2 linked regions of the Homo sapiens genome follow. The protein of the gene in region 1 purifies or fractionates together with the protein of each later gene. This does not show direct contact. Each region holds a gene or a part of one and is shown on either strand. Other genes may lie near its edges.

What was found. The genes of interacting proteins can lie anywhere in the genome.
Region 2: the proteins of KIR3DL2 (region 1) and ARB2A purify together in Homo sapiens (affinity purification with mass spectrometry; 2 studies listed by BioGRID and IntAct, with this or other methods). This does not show direct contact.

Annotation. Positions count from the first base shown.
Region 1 is NC_000019.10:54,848,334-54,853,798, forward strand, and holds the start of KIR3DL2 (killer cell immunoglobulin-like receptor 3DL2 isoform 1 precursor), read left to right. Parts: upstream 1-2,109; 5' UTR 2,110-2,142; coding exon 2,143-2,176; intron 2,177-2,886; coding exon 2,887-2,922; intron 2,923-3,664; coding exon 3,665-3,949; intron 3,950-5,413; coding exon 5,414-5,465. UniProt on the Homo sapiens protein: Receptor on natural killer (NK) cells and T cells for MHC class I molecules. Upon binding of peptide-free HLA-F open conformer, negatively regulates NK and T cell effector functions. Acts as a receptor on astrocytes for HLA-F.
Region 2 is NC_000005.10:93,957,539-93,962,452, reverse strand, and holds part of ARB2A (cotranscriptional regulator ARB2A isoform 1 precursor), read left to right. Parts: intron 1-3,484; coding exon 3,485-3,676; intron 3,677-4,914. UniProt on the Homo sapiens protein: Plays a role in the regulation of alternative splicing, by interacting with AGO2 and CHD7. Seems to be required for stabilizing protein-protein interactions at the chromatin-spliceosome interface. May have hydrolase activity.

The sequences.
Region 1 (5,465 bases):
CCACCTCTCCAACCTAACTGGCTTACTTCCTAGTCTACCTGAGGCTGCAATCACACTGAGGAACTCACAATTCCAAACATACAAGAGGCTGCCTCTTAACACAGCACTTAGACACGTGCTGTTCCACCTCCCTTCAGACTATCTTTCAGCCTTCTGCCAGCAGTAAAACTTATAAATTTTTTAAATAATTTCAATGTAGTTTTCCCGCCTTCAAATAAACATGTCTGCCCTCATGGTTTCGGTAACGAGACTCTTTTCTTGCCTAAGGCTTCCGGTGTTATCATTACCATGTCCACATAACCCCATCTGTTCTCCATTGGGTTCTCAGCCCTGGACTCTGAGCTTCTGGAAGCAGAATGGAGCCTGATTTGTCTCTGAGACTCCAATTTCCATCCAAAGATACAGCACATAGGAGGCTCCAAGGATCGTGAATCACATGAACAAGTGATATTCTTACTCTCTGCAGACCTGGAAAGCTGGCAGAGTCATTCCACGATGAAACATTTGTAGAGTCATAGGCCTTGTTAGTCTCATCTCCACGGGGACACATATCAACATATCATCTTTCATAATATAAATATACAGTCGGTCCTCCATATCTGTGGGGTTTACAGGTGTTTATTGAACCAACAATAAATCAAAAATATTTTCAGAAAAAAATCCCCGAAGTTTCAAGAAGCAAAAAACTATGTTGAATCGACACAAATTGAGTGGCGTGTAGGCTGTGTCAGGAATTATAAGTAATCAAGGGATGATTTCATGTATACAGGAGGATGTGCATGGGTTCTATGCAATTGCTATGCTATTTTTTTTTTTTTTTTGAGACAGTCTCACTCTCTCACCCAGGCTGGAGTGCAGTGGCATGATCTCAGCTCACTGCAACCTCCGCCTCCCAGGTTCAAGCGATTGTCTTCCCTCAGCCTCCCCAGTAGCCTCCCCTAGGATTACAGGCACGTGCCACCATGCACAGATAAATTTTTTTGTGTGTGTATTTTTAGTAGAGACGGGGTTTCAGAATGTTGGACCAGCTGGTCTTGAACTCCTGACCTCGTGATCTACCCAACTCAGCCTCCCAAAGTGCTGGGATTACAGGCGTGAGCCACGGTGCCCAGCTTCGCTATGCCATTTCATGCAAGGGGCTTGAGCATCTGCAGATTTTGGTATCTGAATGGGGATCCTGGAACCAATCACCCAGGAATAGTGAAGGACCACAGTATATAATTTTTATTTGTCAATCTTAAAAATAAAGCATAAAAAGTTTACAACAACAAGATAAAAAATAAGAAGTGTCTTTATAGTGTGAGGATAAGTTTAGATTTATTTTTTCCTACGTGTAACCCTATGGTCCTGTGTTATTTGTTGAGAAAATATTCTATTCCACCTTAAACTACATGGCAGCCTTTGTCAACTATAAAGGGACTGTGTATCCACAGATGTATTTTAGACACAGTTTTCTGCCCAGTGGTTCTCTGTATCCCCTCTCATGAGGATGCTGCATTTCATATAAACTTATAGAACCCCTTAAAATTTGGTAACCTGAGTTCTCTGATTTGTTATTATAGGTTATTTAGTTTGCTTTTTTTTTTCTTTCTTGAGACAGACTCTTCCTCTGTCACCCAAGCTGGAGTTCAGTGGCTTGAGCTCAGCTCACTGCAGCCTCCGCCTCCCAGGTTCAAGCAATTCTCGTGCCTCAGGTTTAGTACTAGAAACTCATCAGGAAAATTAGAATGGCTTTTTGTCACAATTACTCTGATAATGTTAATAATACCTCTTAGATATTTTGCACATTACACATGAAGAAAAGTTTGAATCTCAGATAAAAACAAAAATACATCAAAAGTCTTTAATGTAAGCACAGAATTCAATCACCTCATGTGTGAGAGGTTGGATCTGAGACGTCTTTTGAGTCTGGTCATAGTGAAGGATGCAAGGTGGCAATTGTAGTCACAACAATTTCCAGGAAGCCATGTTCCGCTCTTGAGCGAGCACCCACTGGGCCTCATGCAAGGTAGAAAGAGCCTGCGTACGTCACCCTCCCATGATGTGGTCAACATGTAAACTGCATGGGCAGGGCGCCAAATAACATCCTGTGCGCTGCTGAGCTGAGCTGGGGCGCGGCCTCCTGTCTGCACCGGCAGCACCATGTCGCTCACGGTCGTCAGCATGGCGTGCGTTGGTGAGTCCTGGAAGGGAATAGAGGGAGGGAGAGTGGGGATGGAGATCTCGGCCTAGAGGTAAAGATATGGGCCTGGAGTGGAGATATGGGCCTGGAGTGGAGATATGGGCCTGGGTGTGGAGATATGGGCCTGGAGGTGTAAATATGGGCCTGGAGTGGAGATATGGGCCTGGAGGGGAGATATGGGCCTGGGTGTGGAGATATGGGCCTGGAGTGGAGATACGGGCCTGGAGTGGAGATATGGGCCTGGAGTGGAGATATGGGCCTGCAGGTGGAGATCTGGGCCTGGAGTGGAGATATGGGCCTGGAGTGGAGATATGGGTCTGATGTGGAGATATGGGCCTGGAGTGGAGATATGGGCCTGGAGTGGAGATATGGGCCTAGAGGGGAGATCTGGGCCTGGAGTGGAGATATGGGTCTGATGTGGAGATATGGGCCTGGAGTGGAGATATGGGCCTGGAGTGGAGATAGGGGCCTGGAGTGGAGATATGGGCCTGGAGTGGAGATCTGGGCCAGGAAGTGTTGATCTGGGCCTGGAGCCTGGGTCTCTCCACAGCTGAGAGCCCTGTTCTTGGCAGCAGGTAGCAGGGAGGCTAAGTTTACCTTCAGCCCAGCAAGGGCCTGGCTGCCAAGACACACAGTGCAGTGGGGGCAGCAGGGTGCCCTGGTTTGCCTGCAGTTGGATCGTCTATCATGATCTTTCTTTCCAGGGTTCTTCTTGCTGCAGGGGGCCTGGCCACTCATGGGTGAGTCCGTCCCCAAACCTTAGGGTGTCATCTCCCCACATAAGAGGATTTTTCTGAAACAGGAGGGAAGTCCTGTCGGGGAGTCTCTCATAAACTAGGAAGAGGGGACCCTTGGATACTCGGCCCACATTTCTGACCTCGCCCTCCCTGGCCTTTCTTTCCCTTTCCTGAGTCAAGCTCTGTGAAGACTGGGGTGAGACTGGGGTGCTCCAAGCTGGGGTGTGCAGGGAGGAAGTGGTGTCAGCAGCAGAGAAAGAGAGGGAAGCAGTGCTAGGAACAGCAGGTCCTCTGAGGACAAAGGTATAACTGACACCCTCCAGCGTTTCCGTGACGGTAGGGGCTGCAGTGTGGCTGCGGTCTTTCTACCAGAAGAGGGGGGAAACCACAGCCATGGCCCTGACATTCCAAATCCTCTGAGGGGGCTCAGTTCATGAATTGGCTGATATTCCATTCACATAGGACATGCCCTCCATGCCGTGTCTACTTTGTGTTGTTTTATGTGAGTAATTTTGCAGTATTAAAATCTAGTAAGAGTCACTTATTCAGCACTTGCTCAAAGTTCTCAGCTGACACTTGTTGTAGGGAGACGCCATGTCTATGTGGGGTGGGTCCTTCCTGTAGCCCTGGGCACCCAGGTGTGGTAGGAGCCTTAGAAAGCGGAAATGGGAGAATCTTCTGAGCACAGGGAGGGAGGGGTGGCTCCACATCCTCCTCTCTAAGGCAGTGCCTCCTTCTCCCCCAGGTGGTCAGGACAAACCCTTCCTGTCTGCCCGGCCCAGCACTGTGGTGCCTCGAGGAGGACACGTGGCTCTTCAGTGTCACTATCGTCGTGGGTTTAACAATTTCATGCTGTACAAAGAAGACAGAAGCCACGTTCCCATCTTCCACGGCAGAATATTCCAGGAGAGCTTCATCATGGGCCCTGTGACCCCAGCACATGCAGGGACCTACAGATGTCGGGGTTCACGCCCACACTCCCTCACTGGGTGGTCGGCACCCAGCAACCCCCTGGTGATCATGGTCACAGGTCAGAGGCTTTCTGTCTGGGCTTCTCACTGTCCCACCTCCTGAATCCCAGAGCTTCTGGTGGGGGTGTCCATCAGGGTCCCATCACCCAGGCCCCAACTGTATTTGGGGTCAAGGGAGATTGAATACAGGGGAAATGGGTGCTGTGGTGGGAAGAATAACTGTCGCCAATGATGGCTACATTGTAAACCCTGGAGCCTGTGACTATTTATGTTATAGGGCAGGGGACTGAAGGGGAAGGTGGAGCTCAGGTTGTTGATGAGTTGACCTTGAGATGGGGAGACAGCCTGGACTGTCCTGCTGGGCTCAGTGTAATCACAAGGGTCCGCGTGAGAGGTGGAGGAAGAGGGGAGTGGGGATTAGAGCAGTGTAGTGGGAGGGAGACGCTATCAGCCACTGTGGGCTTTGAAGGTGGAGGAAGGCCACTAGTCACAGAATGCAGGTGGCCTCTAAGGGCTGGAGAAGTCAAGAGAACTGATTTGCTGAGTCTCCAGAGGGAACGCAGCCCTGCAGATGCCTTGATTTCAGCACAGGGAGAACTGGATCCAATTTCTGTCCCCAGAAGTGGAAGGGGTCAGTGTGTTCTCTCCTGCTGCCATGTTTGTGATAATTTTCTGCAGCAGCAACAGGAAACCGACACAGGAACCCAGGTCAAGGACAAGCTAGGAAACCAAACAAGGATAGCCAGGTGTGGTGGTGGGCACGAGTAATCCAACGACTGGGGAGGCTGAGGCAAGATAATCACTTGAACCGGGGAGGCAGAGGTTGCAGTGAGCCAAGACAACACCACTGCACTCCAGCCTGGGTGAAAAAGTGACTGTCTCAAAAATAAATTAATTAATCAATTAATTAAAGAAACCAAACAAGGAGAAGGTTGGCTACCGTGGGATCAGCAAGGGTGGGATGCTGATGCCACCACCAGGCTCCATCCACATAGGAAGGGGTTGATGCTCCTGGAACCAGCACCAGGGACCACCCTATGGAAGCTGGGGCCATGGAGAAGGCACAGACATGGCAGGAGAGGCTCCCAATCCCCATCAGGAACAGGGTGTGTGGACACTGATGTCTGCCTTACTGATGAGTTGATACCTCTGCCAGAGACTCCAATTTGTTCAAAAGAGATTGATTCAGGCTGCTGAGAGCCTGGACATGCAGCCTGTCCTCTTCCACCCCCACATAGACAGCAGGAAAGAGACTAGTGGGAAAGAGATACAACAGCCCAAGAGATGAGGCTCTCTTCACAGTGGGAAGGGAGTCAGGGGCTACTGGAGACAGAGGGACAGAGAAGAGGGAGGAAGACAAATGGAGGGACCTGCACCAGGGGATATGGGCACAGAAAAGACACGGAGACACAGAGAGGGAGGAGAGAGACAGACCTCTGGGAGGGGAACCCTCACTCATTCCAGGTGCCATGGATGGGATGATAAAGAGAGATGCCTTCTAAACTCACAACTTCTCTTTCTAGGAAACCACAGAAAACCTTCCCTCCTGGCCCACCCAGGGCCCCTGCTGAAATC
Region 2 (4,914 bases), on another chromosome or scaffold:
ATGATTTGATAGTAAACATTATGATCATGCCTATGTTTAATCCACATCTCTCATAAATAGGCATAAAGTATTCTCAATTATAGTAAAATATCTCATACTTGTATAGAACTCTGGAGACATGAATTAACAACTTCACTACAAATTTTCACGTAGTTTATTACATGCATCATGTTTCAGCAATTAATGGTGTTCACGAGTATTCCACAATGAATTGGTGACTGCTAAAATTGTTTGGTGCAGTCTTACCAACCAAAAGGTGTCTGAGATTGATTTGTAATAAAGTGAGGTGGTTCGCTGGAATGACCATTATGTGTATTCCTTAATGAAAGCTTAGCTTAATAAATTACCACTGTTTGAAGATAAATGGCCTTGGAACAGCCGTATGTTCAAACTTAATTAGGTTAATGAAGAAGAAATTATTTTATTAATATAGGTATCTTACTATTTAAAATTAGCACTATCTTTATAGAAAGTACATTGTAGTTACCATGTGCACAGTCAGAGTTCTGTGTAAACTGAGGTGAATATTAGCCAATGACCAGCTAAAATACTGCTCTTACCCCTTACTCATTAATATTGTTACATTTTTCATTTTCATTGTTGTTTTTCTTTAATATTCTGATATTCTCATATTTTGAAAGTCAACTTTTCTCAGTATTCAAGTAAAACTTTAATTTATTCATGGCTACCTTAATTTGTAGCCCCTTAAAAATTATTTAGCAGTGTTTTTTTTTAAAATGTGATTCCCTTTTCCCTCTTTTTTCTTTTTTGAGACAGAGTCTCACTCTGTTGCACAAGCTAAGTGCTGTGGTGCAGTCATGGCTTAGTGCAGCCTTGACTTCCTGGCCTCAAGCAATTCTCCAGCCTCAGCTTGCCAAGTAGCTGGGACTACAGGTGCACACCACCACACCTAGCTAATTTTTGATTATTTGTAGAGACAGGGTCTCACTATGTTGCCCAGGTTGGTTTCGAACTCCTGGACTCAAGTGGTCCTTTATCGAGCAGCATTTTAATATAAAAAATACATTTTTATCATCTGAAAATAAGTTTCTTTCAGTTCTAAGTGATTACTGTGGACTTCAAAGTGCCAGTATTCCATTGCTTAAAAAATTGACTGAGTTTCTTGGTAACAGGGGACTTAGTCAAATAGGAAAAAAGAGACAGTGATCAGCACCTACTGGAATATCTGTACTACAGGTTTTTTCATGAAGGTGAATAGATATCCATCTCCATAGCCATTCCAGGATCCATTAAGGCCTCACTGACCTTAAGAGACACTTTTCTTTGTGCGTGTTTAGACATAGTGTTTGGTAATTGAGTGACTAGAAACCCCTGTGGCCTCTTTCTTGTTATACACTGACAGCTCTGCCTTTCAATTTTTTTATTTTGTTCTTATCATCATTACTTTTTTTTTAGGCTTCTTTAACTGAGCAATTCTCCTATTTTTATATAATGTTCCTAGGTAAAAGGGAATTTTTCTTCTTAGGTTTGGTTTTCCTGTGTCTGTCATCCACTTATCTTTCTGTGTGGCTGTAGTCATATTTATTGTCATCATTATACTTTGTTTACTCTGGACATAGCATGCAGGTGAAGCTAATATGATTGTGTTACACTTCATATCTCTCTTCCTGTATTTTTAGCTATTGCTAATAAAATTATAGTTATGTCATTTTAATTCTTTAACATTGTATAGCTCTTGTAAAATTCTCTATAATTATGTACTAGTTTAATCTTCAGTATATGCTTTCTGAACCAGGCAAGTATTATAACCATTTTAGAGGATCCATTATTTAGTTAAATGTCTTTTATCTAAAGGAAGTCACTGGTGAGGCTTGATAAGATTCCTCATTCCAAAAGTTTATTGTTTTTAATTACTGAGTGCCTACAATGTGCTAGGTTTTATTTTAGGTACTGAGACTATATAAGTGGATACAAACGAGAGAACTCTGTGCCTGCCTGGACTTACGTTCTAGTGGAGGGAGCAGGCCGTGAATAAACACATTTGCAAAAATGTAGAGTAAAGCATACAATATGTTAGATCTTGGTATGTGCCGTGGAGGAAAATAAAACAGGGAAGGGGACTATGGAATTCTCGGGACATGTTTGGAATTTTAAAAGTGGTAGTCAGGGAAGGCTTCAATGAAAAGGTGTTATTTCTTCTTTAAGACCTGTGTCCATGCTGCTCTTGCTGAAATAATTGCCATTTTTGCTGTGTTTGCACAAATGCCTAAGCCATCTCTTACTGAAACTAGCCTGATTGTTTTAGAAGTACAGATATTTTATTTTATTTTATTTTATTTTATTTTTCTCTTCCTAAGCGTAATGACTGGGAGTATTTAGAATCCAGGGCTTTTTTTGGGGGGGGGGGGGGCATCTAGAGTTTTTGTATACTTCCTATTTTGATAATTGTATGAACATATACAGTTGACAAAGTGAAGAGCTATTACGTTACACAATATGTGGATTGACCTTCTTTATGTAAGAGTACCAGCCACCAGAATGTCAACTTTCTGCTTGATCTGGCTATTGAAAGGCTTCCATTTCCAGTCACTCGCCAGTGCTGATGTGGTATACCACTCAGTGTGTCATGGCATATGTAACAAAAGGTTGGGAAGTTATCTCTTTCTAAAAGTGTTTTGTGTCTTTCAAATGTAAATCATACATCATATAGTTAACAATCTAAATATTAAGTACAATCAAAATGGATAAAAATATTTACTTTTTATTCTGTAAGTAACTAGTTTATAAAGTAAGTTCATTGGAGTACATAATGTGGCTTTGTAAAAATAATTGTTATATAATCCTGTGTTCACAATCTGAATGAAATTTGGAAGTCCATTTACATAGATCAGGTAAGAATAGAATAGATGGTTAGTTTTTAAATAGTTTCCTCTTCTTCCCCTTAAAAGTTTAGTGGTATTCCTGGCTGATATATGATTTTCCAATACGTCTATCTCCAATTTTAGTTTTCTATTTTTTATTATAGGTGCAATATATTTCTGTTATACAACTATAGACTTATAGTTGTGTGACCGTGGGCAACTTATTTAAACTCCCTAAGCCTCAATTTCTTCATCTATAAATCAATATAATAATAGTACCACCTAAATGGGTTGTTATTGAATGAGATAATGTTTTTACAACAGGTAGCATAGCAGCTAGACTATAGGAGGCACTAAAAAAGTAGTTATTTTTATTTACAATGATAATATAATACTAAATATACAATAATAATGAAGAGAAACATATTACCAATATTTTTTGTATTTTTATATTTAAATTACTATCATGTCTTGTCCCATCCAACTAATATATAATTGTTAACCTCTACTGAATATTTTAATTTTGTGTTAAAATTGTTTTTTACTTCTATAATTCTATAGTAACCATTTAATACTTTGTAACAGCCATTAGTTGTTTTTTCATTTATGTGTATGCCTGATCAGAAGACATTTATTTATTATTTAATTTTATTTAATTACAGGTAGATGCCACTGAGAGTGAACCAAAGAGTTTTATCTTTATGAGTGAGGATGCTTTGACAAATCCACAGAAACTGATGGTTTTAATTCATGGTAGTGGTGTTGTCAGGGCAGGGCAGTGGGCTAGAAGACTTATTATAAATGAAGATCTGGACAGTGGCACACAGATACCGTTTATTAAAAGAGCTGTGGCTGTAAGTACAATTTCCTGGGTTTTTTTTTTTGGCATTTTATAGTACTGTTTTATTATATGTTTTTATGTTTCTTCAAAAAGTATATCCTAAGCATAATCTTATCTTTGGGTTGTTATTATTTATTTTACTTGTATGAAAGATTATTCTGCATTATTTTGCAGTTACAAAGAAACACAAAGTGGCATCTTGAGCATACAAAGATTTAAATAATGTCTTTTGAGTGAATTATTTTTCTAAAATATTTTTAATCCTGTGAAATATGACAGGGTTAATATTTTCTAAAAATATTTTTAATCCTGTGAAATATCAATTATCAAACTATCAAATATTTATCAACATTATTGAAAATAACTTCTGACAAAAATATCATGACTGCTTTTGTAAACCTTTGCCTACCTAATTTGGTAAAGTTAGAAACTAAAGGAGATCTGCTACTTTGAATTAATCTCATATTATTTAAAGGAAGAGTTGGAATAACTAAATTTTTTTGTCGTTTCTTTAAAATGTTTTTTAGAGCCCACAAATAAAATGCTTTAAGCATGAGACATAGACATACAGAATGGCAAAATGTAATGTTTAATGAATACTTTATTCTTATTTGCATTCAAACTTTTTAGAAACTCCTATTTTTAAATTGTGTTCAAGGTTTCTTTTCTTGCAATAGTGAAATGTTTTTCTGACATAATATTGGCATATTTTAATGTTTGACTGCTTTTGTTTTACTATTGCATTCATAAGTTCCATAGTGAACAGCCCAATTTTGCAAAGTGTGAATTTCTTTCACATGAGTAGATTTTTTTTTTAGAAAAACATAAACTGATATCTTGTATCAGTTTTGTAAAAAGTAAAAAGTCTTTTGTAAAAAGACTTTTGTAAAAAGTAAAGGAATATATGTGTCCATGTAGGCTTTATTTGTTTTATTTATAAGAATTATTACGTTTGTAATTAAAATTAGAAGGGATTTCTTTAATACGCTGATGATTACAAAAGTCAAAGGTAACATGTTCTCTATTCTGTTAACTCAGAAATGAGAAATGAAGGCTCAGCCCAGCTCCTAAAAAACATTTTGGTTAATAGATTTTGAAACCCTTAAAATGCTAAAAGTAGAATTTCTTAGGTTAACTATATGTTTTTTTTTCCCACTTTTTGTGGATAGGCAAAGAATGGAAAGATACTACTTTTGATCTGGTTGCTAATTTCGACAGTGTATATTTTAGTAGAATTGAAGTAACAAAAAT